Linked DNA regions of Homo sapiens. The protein of the gene in region 2 interacts with the protein of the main gene of each other region in a biochemical or structural test. Each region holds a gene or a part of one and is shown on either strand. Other genes may lie near its edges.

What was found. The genes of interacting proteins can lie anywhere in the genome.
Region 1: the proteins of IKBKG (region 2) and FRMD8 form a complex in vitro, tested with the Homo sapiens proteins (one study listed by BioGRID and IntAct).

The regions. Positions count from the first base shown.
Region 1 is NC_000011.10:65,403,491-65,407,140, forward strand, and holds part of FRMD8 (FERM domain-containing protein 8), read left to right. Parts: intron 1-1,373; coding exon 1,374-1,578; intron 1,579-3,650. UniProt on the Homo sapiens protein: Promotes the cell surface stability of iRhom1/RHBDF1 and iRhom2/RHBDF2 and prevents their degradation via the endolysosomal pathway. By acting on iRhoms, involved in ADAM17-mediated shedding of TNF, amphiregulin/AREG, HBEGF and TGFA from the cell surface.
Region 2 is NC_000023.11:154,550,475-154,554,124, reverse strand, and holds part of IKBKG (NF-kappa-B essential modulator), read right to left. Parts: intron 2,138-3,650; coding exon of another isoform or gene 2,123-2,137; coding exon 1,936-2,122; intron 1-1,935. UniProt on the Homo sapiens protein: Regulatory subunit of the IKK core complex which phosphorylates inhibitors of NF-kappa-B thus leading to the dissociation of the inhibitor/NF-kappa-B complex and ultimately the degradation of the inhibitor.

The DNA.
Region 1 (3,650 bases), on a different chromosome or scaffold from region 2:
GACTTTCTATGTGGACAGTCGTGTGGTCTGTGAGTTGGGACAGCTGGGTCTCACTTTCCAATCTGTGTGCCTCTTGCTTGCCTTGCCTGACAGTGCTTCTGACCCCCAGTGTAGGATGGATAGGTGTGCGCAGGCGTCCCTGACGCACCTGGCCTGAGAGAGAACATTGTCTTTCACTGAATAAGTGGGATTTTGCTGTGGGTTCTTCAGAGATGCGCTTCATCAGGTTGAGGAAGTTCCTTTCTGACGCTGGCTTGCTGAGTTTTATCTTGGACAGATGTTCAGCAGAGCTTCCTCTTTTGGCTGCATTTGAACGGCAGGCTTCCTGAGCCTCAGAGGCATGTTGCTGTGCAGGAGTTTTTGTTCTAGGAAACTTAGTAGGCTTCCCTGTTATGGTTGCACTCAGGACTCTGTCCCCACCGGCTGCCGTCCCCTCGCCAGCCCACTGCCCTTTGGCTGGTGGAGTCCACTTGGTGAGGAGAGGAGTGTGGGTGGACTGAGCTGAGGGCAGGGAGCGTGGAGAGCCCACCAGGCCTCTGCTCTTCCTTCTGGGCCGAGCAGCGGTGCCCACCTGCCCAGCCCAGAGGGATTGTAGCTGCCCTGTGGAGAGGCAGGAGCCAGGCCAGTCTCCGCAGGGCCACTCCAGCATCTGACCCAGCCCCACCAGTCAGGAGCACAGGTGGCCATTCCTGTCTACTTGGCCTCATCTTATCCCAGGCCTGCAGCAGTGCTTGGCACGTGGGAGGCACTCAGGAAATACCTGTGTCCTAAGGGGTGCCACCCTTTTAACACCCTCTGCGACTCCCTCAAACCCCTGAAGGCCCTGTCCTTGGTGCCCAGCTGTGCCCGCTGGCACCCGGCTGCTGCATCTTTTCTGTCAGTGTGCCTCATGCTTCACACCTGTTGAGTAGGAGTCACTTTTGAAGAACGTGCTGGCAGGGAGCCGCCCGCCCCTGCCCTGGTGACATCGCGCCCCTTCCTCCTGGCTGCAGGTTTTCCTCCCAGCCAGCACCACCCGCCTCCCCGCCCCGCTTCCCCACTCTTCGTCCTCTCTGCAGCAGCTGGCTCCCTACCCCCTCCCTCCCCACCTGCTTCTGCCCATGGAGTCAGCCTTCCTGGGCTGTGCCTTCTGACCAGAATGTTCTTTCTTTCCCACCTGAACTCCCAGATCTGGAGACCCCTCCTCATCCACCAGGACTCACCTTCACAGTCACCCAAGTGGGACACCTCCCCTGCCTCCCTGCTCCCTCCCTCCTGAGTGATGTGTGTCCCCTCCCCTGCTTCCCCAACCAGAGAGCAGAGCTCATTTCAGGCTCAGCAACAGGCATGGAAGGGGGCCCTGGCCAGGCCTCACACTGCCCCCTCCTCCCCAGGCCGAACTGATGAGCAGTCTCATTGAGTACTGCATCGAACTGAGCCAGGCGGCGGAGCCCGCAGGCCCCCAGGACAGTGCGACTGGCTCGCCCTCGGACCCCAGCTCCTCACTGGCTCCTGTTCAGCGCCCCAAGCTGCGGAGGCAGGGCAGTGTGGTGTCCAGCCGGATCCAGCATCTCTCCACCATCGACTACGTGGAGGACGGTGAGCAGCCCTTCTGTGCATGTGCACACACAAACACGCATGCGCGTGCACACACCGGGGGGAGTTCCTGAGGACAGGGCATTGCAGAGCAGCTCCAGACCCAGTGTGAGCTGGCCTCCATCTCAGGACACAGCTGTGAGCAGGCCGAGCCCGGGCCTTGGCCATAGTGCCTTTCCTGTCCCTTCTCACTGCTGCGTCACAGACGTTCTGCAGCATTGTCCAGGATGTGATCCGGGAAACGACTCAACATCTGTTACTGAAGTGTTGGGTAGGTGGGGCGCGGTGGCTCACGCCTGTAATCCCAGCACTTTGGGAGGCCAAGGCAGGAGGATCACCTGAGGTCAGGAGTTCAAGAACAGGCTGGCCAACATGGTGAAACCCTGTCTCTACTAAAAATACAAAAAAAGTAGCGAGGTGTATGGCAGGCGCCTGTAATCCCAGCTACTCGGGAGGCTGAGGCAGGAAAAACGCTTGAACCCAGCAGGCAGAGGTTGCAGTGAGCCGAGATTGCATCATTGCATTCCAGCCTGGGAGACAGAGCAAGACTCCGTCTCAAAAATAAATAAATAAATAAATAAAGCGTTGGGTAAATCACTGCTGTGACCACATCTTGGGGTGTTGAGTGCAGCTGGTAAAAATACAGTACCCAGGCCGGGTGCAGTGTCTCACACCTGTAATCCCAGTACTTTGGGAGACCAAGACAAAGAGGATCACTTGAGCCCAGGAGCTCAAGACCAGCCTGGACAACAGAGTGAGACCCTGTCTCTACAAAATATACTTAAACTTAGCTGAGCACGGTGGTATATGCCTGTAGTCTCACCTTCTTGGGAGGCTGATGAGGCAGGAGTATCTCTGAGCCCAGGAGTTGGAGGTTTGCAGTGAGCTACGATTGTACCACTGCACTCCAGCCTGGGTGACAACGATGAGACCCTATATATATATATTTTTTTTAATTAATTAATTAGTTAACTATTTTTGAGACGGAGTCTCACTCTGTCGCCCAGGCTGGAGTACAGTGGCATGATCTCGGCTCACTGCAACCTCCGCCTCCCCAGTTCTAGTGATTCTCCTGCCTCAACCTCCCGAGTAGCTGGGACTACAGGTGTGTGCCACCACACCCGGCTAATTTTTTTTTTTTTTTTTGAGACAGAGTCTCACTCTGTCGCCCAGGCTGGAGTGCAGTGGGCGCGATCTTGGCTCACTGCAAGCTCCACCTCCTGGGTTCACGCCATTCTCCTGCCTCAGCCTCCTAAGTAGCTGGAACTACAGGCGCCCACCACCACGCCCGGCTACTTTTTTGTATTTGTAGTAGAGACGGGGTTTCACCGTGTTAGCCAGGATGGTCTCGATCTCCTGACCTTGTGGTCCATCCGCCTTGGCCTCCCAAAGTGCTGGGATTACAGGTGTGAGCCACTGCACCCGGCCCTAATTTTTTGTTTTTAGTAGAGATGGGGTTTCACCGTGTTAGCCAGGATGGTCTCAATTTCCTGTCCTCGTGATCCACCTGCCTTGGCCTCCCAAAGTGCTGGGATTACAGGCGTGAAACATCACACCAAGCCCGAGACCCTGTTTTTAAAAAGGAATACCCTGGCCGGGCGCAGTGGCTCACGCCTGTAATCCTAGCACATTGGGAGACCAAGGCGGGTGGATCACCTGAGGTCGGGAGTTCGAGACCAGTCTGACCAACATGGAGAAAACTCTTCTCTACTAAAAATACAAAATTAGCTGGATGTGGTGGTGGTCGCCTGTAGTCCCAGCTACTTGGGAGGCTGAAAGCAGGAGAATCGCTTGTACCCAGGAGGTGGAGGTTGCAGTGAGCCAAAATCACGCCACTGCACTCCAGCCTGGGCAACAAGAACGAAACTCCGTCTCAAATAAATAAATAAATAAATAAATAATAAAAAGGAATACCCTAAATGCATCTTGTGTCAGATCCTGGAAGAGAGGACATTTGTGGAAAAACTATTGAAGTCCAAAAGAATTTTAGTTAACAGATACTGTGTCAGTGTTCATTCCTTAGCTCTGATGTGGTGACAGAACATGCTGTCATCGGGAGAAGTTGTGGCGGTATT
Region 2 (3,650 bases):
AGGGGCTTGGCCCAGGGCCTGACACATGGAGCTACCAAGTTTCACCTGCCACCCACAAAGCTCAGGTCAGGCGGAGCAGGGGGAGTCAATACAGCCTTGAGGCCTCCTTGTGTCCCTGGAGCCCGAGGGAAGCTGCTGCACTGAACACACAGCCTGGAAGGGAAGCAAGGGCGCCATACGCTGTGCCAGGGTCCCTGCACAGCTGGCCTGCAACACTCACCCTCAAGTCCCCCTCAATAGAGCACTCTCCTGGGGATGAGCAGAAGCCCCCAGTCTAACTGTCACCTCTCTGTGCACCAGTGCTTTGAAGATCCCAATACAGTGGGTCTCACCAGGGACAACTGTATCCCCCAGGGGTCATTTGGCAATAAATATCTGGGGATATTGTTAGTTGTCACAACAGGACAGGTGCTACTGGCATCTAGCAGGTACAGGCCAGGGACTCTGCTCCACACCCTACAACGTACAAGAGAATTCTCCAGCCCCAGGTGCCGATGGCACTGAGGTGGGGGACCCTGTCCTGGAACAGGCAGGTCATGTTGGGTCTCCATGCTCCAGCAGGGCCTCTCCAATTCAGCCTCACCGTCGAGGAGACCAAGCAGCCCCCTGACAGCAAGCTGACTGCACTGACCCCTTCCTCCATGGAAGGAAAGGTGATTTGCCTTGACAGTAAGAGGAGACACATCGCAGGCATGGGTCTTGTCTCTGCCCACGGGGTGTCAGCCAGAGCCACTCTCTGAAGCCTACAGACTATGTGACTTGTCAGCACAGAGCCCCACATAACATCTCGGACCACAGTCCAGCAAAGAAGGCGGGGGAGTGGGCCCATGACAGCGATCTCTAGTAGTCACGGCACATGCCACCTCGCCCAGGAGCTGCCAGCCAGCCAGGACACGGAGAGCCAATTGAAGCTGCCAGCTCAGGGATGACTCCTGCAAGGAAGGGGTGTTGTCCTCCACGATGGGGTGGACACTTAGGCCTGAGTCCCCAGCAGGAACCAAAGGATGAAACAAAAAGGGCTACAGGCCCCACCACACCCAGTGAGCCATGTGGGGAGTCTATGCCGCCCCTCCCTGCAGCTCTGGGACCCGAGGCTTAGAAGGCCCCCGCAGCAGAAAGGCAAGAGTATATGGCGGGTGCCACCTGGCCCCGCCAGGCTAACCCAGGGCAATGCAGAGCAGTGGCAGGGAGAGGGGGTGAGGGGGAAGAATGGCAGGGGCTGGGGGTGCCATCACGCCCAGGGCGCGGGCAGGAGCGTGCAGCTGAGCCCTGAACCCATGACGACCTGGAGCTGAGCAGCAAGAGGGTGAGGGGCGCCCGGATGGCAGTCTAGGAAAGAACTCCCCAGTCCCAGCCACTGGGTGTGGGAAGTCAGCCTTCACCTCCGCTGAGGTGTGCGCCGGGATTGCCCCAGAGGAATGTTGCCTGTGGGGGCCACGCACCTTCCTTCCCAAGACAGACCACGCCCCTCTACCAGGGCATGCCCCGCCCATTTCCAGGACAGGCCCCACCCCCTCTCTGGGCAGACCACGCCTCTTCCCAGCGCCGACTCTGCCCTGTCCCAGGATGGACAGCACTTCATGAGTGCTCAGTGCAGGGACACAGAGGCCTGGACATGTTGGTCCAACCTGGAAGGTTCATTCCAGCTCCAGAGCTCCCTGTAAGATCCAGCAAGGCTGTCCTGGAGCCTACCCGGCAGCGTGCTTCTCCCTCTGCCCTCCCTGGCTTCTTCCCCTGTCCCTCCTTTCCCTTCCCAGTACTGGTCCTGAGAGCATGCTAAACTTCCTCCCCGCTAATCTGCATCTCAGAGTCTACTTCCTGAAACCAAGAGGGAGGGCAGCACATCCCCACCCCAGGCCCAGGAAACGCAGAGGTGCAGGTGGGGAGAAGACGCCTTCCCCTCAGCAGGGCTGGATCCCCTGACTCTTTCCTCACCTCGGAGCTCTTGATTCTCCTCCAGGCAGCGCTGGAGGGTCTCAGGAGCGCCCTGTTCTGAAGGCAGGTGCAGCATGGCTGGCTTCCCCAGAGGAGACTCTTCGCCCAGTACGTCCTGATCTGCTGCCGGGCCACCACTGGGCTGCACCATCTCACACAGTTGGCTCTTCCAGAGGTGCCTATTCATCCAACAGGGCAAGGGCTGAAAGAGAAAGGCAGCAGGGGAGTCACAGGAGACCCACATCCTTACCCAGCAGAAAAAGCCTATGAGTTCTGGGGCTACATTTTAAACAGAATGCTGATAATTCACCTAGTGTATCAGGATGCTAAAGTGGGTTTTCAGTCTAAGGGGTAGCAGATACTCCCATTCCAAAGGGAGGTGCTGGACCACCCATGTGGGACTTGAAAAGGCCTAGCTCCAGGCTGGAAATAGAAGAATTTCACCAGAGATGGGAGAGTCGGGACAAGACTGTTTGTGGAGGGAGATGTCAGTATGCTGGGAATCCTGATCCCCTACACACCTCCAAGCAGGAGAAGTGGAGGGTACCGGCCCCTCATCCAGTGTAGTGGGCTGAATGGTAGCCCCCCGAAAAGATATGCCCATGTTCTAACCCCTGAAACATATGTGATTCGGGAAAAGGGTCTTTGCAGATGTAGGATCTCAAGATGAGATCATTCTGGGTGACGTGGGTGGGCCCTAAATCCAACAACGTGTCTTTATGAGAGACAGAAGAGAGAAGCCAGAGGGAGACGCAAGGGGAGGAGGCCATGTCGGGACTGCCTCGGAGACTGGAGTGAGGCAGCCACAAGCCCAGGAATAAATGGGGCAGAAGCTTGGGAGAGGCAAGGGAGGATTGCCCTCTTAGAGCCTTTGAGGGTGTGTGCTTGCTAACCCTTTGGTTTTGGACTTCTAGTCTCCAGAACTGTGAGATTAAAATGTCTGGCCGGGCGCAGTGGCTCACACCTGTAATCCCAGCACTTTGGGAGGCCGAGGCGGGCCAATCATGAGGTCAGGAGATCGAGACCAGCCTGGCTAACACGGTGAAACCCTGCCTCTACTAAAAAAAAAAAAAAAAATTGCCGGTCACGGTGGCTCACGCCTGTAATCCCAGCACTTTGGGAGGCCGACACGGGTGGATCATGAGGTCAGGAGATTGAGACCATCCTGGCTAACACAGTGAAACCCTGTCTCTACTAAAAATACAAAAAATTAGCCAGGCATGGTAGCGGGCGCCTGTAGCCCCAGCTACCCAGGAGGCTGAGGCAGGAGAATGGCGTGAACCCGGGAGGCAGGAGAATGGCGTGAACCCGGGATCGCGCCACTGCACTCCAGCCTGGGCAACAGAGCGAGACTCCATCTCAAAAAAAAAAAATACAAAAAATTAGCAGAGTGTGGTGACACGCGCCTGTAGTCCCAGCTACTCGGGAGGCCGAAGCAAGAGAATCGCTTGAACCCAGGAGGCGGACGTTGCAGTGAGCTGAGATTGTGCCACTGCACTCCACCCTTGGCTTTCAGAACAGCCCCTTCTCCTGGTTTCCTCCCTATCTTGCTGGCTACTCCTGCCCAGGCACTCTCACTGGGTTCCCATCCTTCATGTTGGGCTGCCCCAGGGCTCTGTCCTAGGACATCTTCTTCTCTGTAACTTCATTCACTCCCACAGGAATTCTGTCCAGTCTCATGCCTTGAACTCCAATCTTGATGCTTAATTAGACCT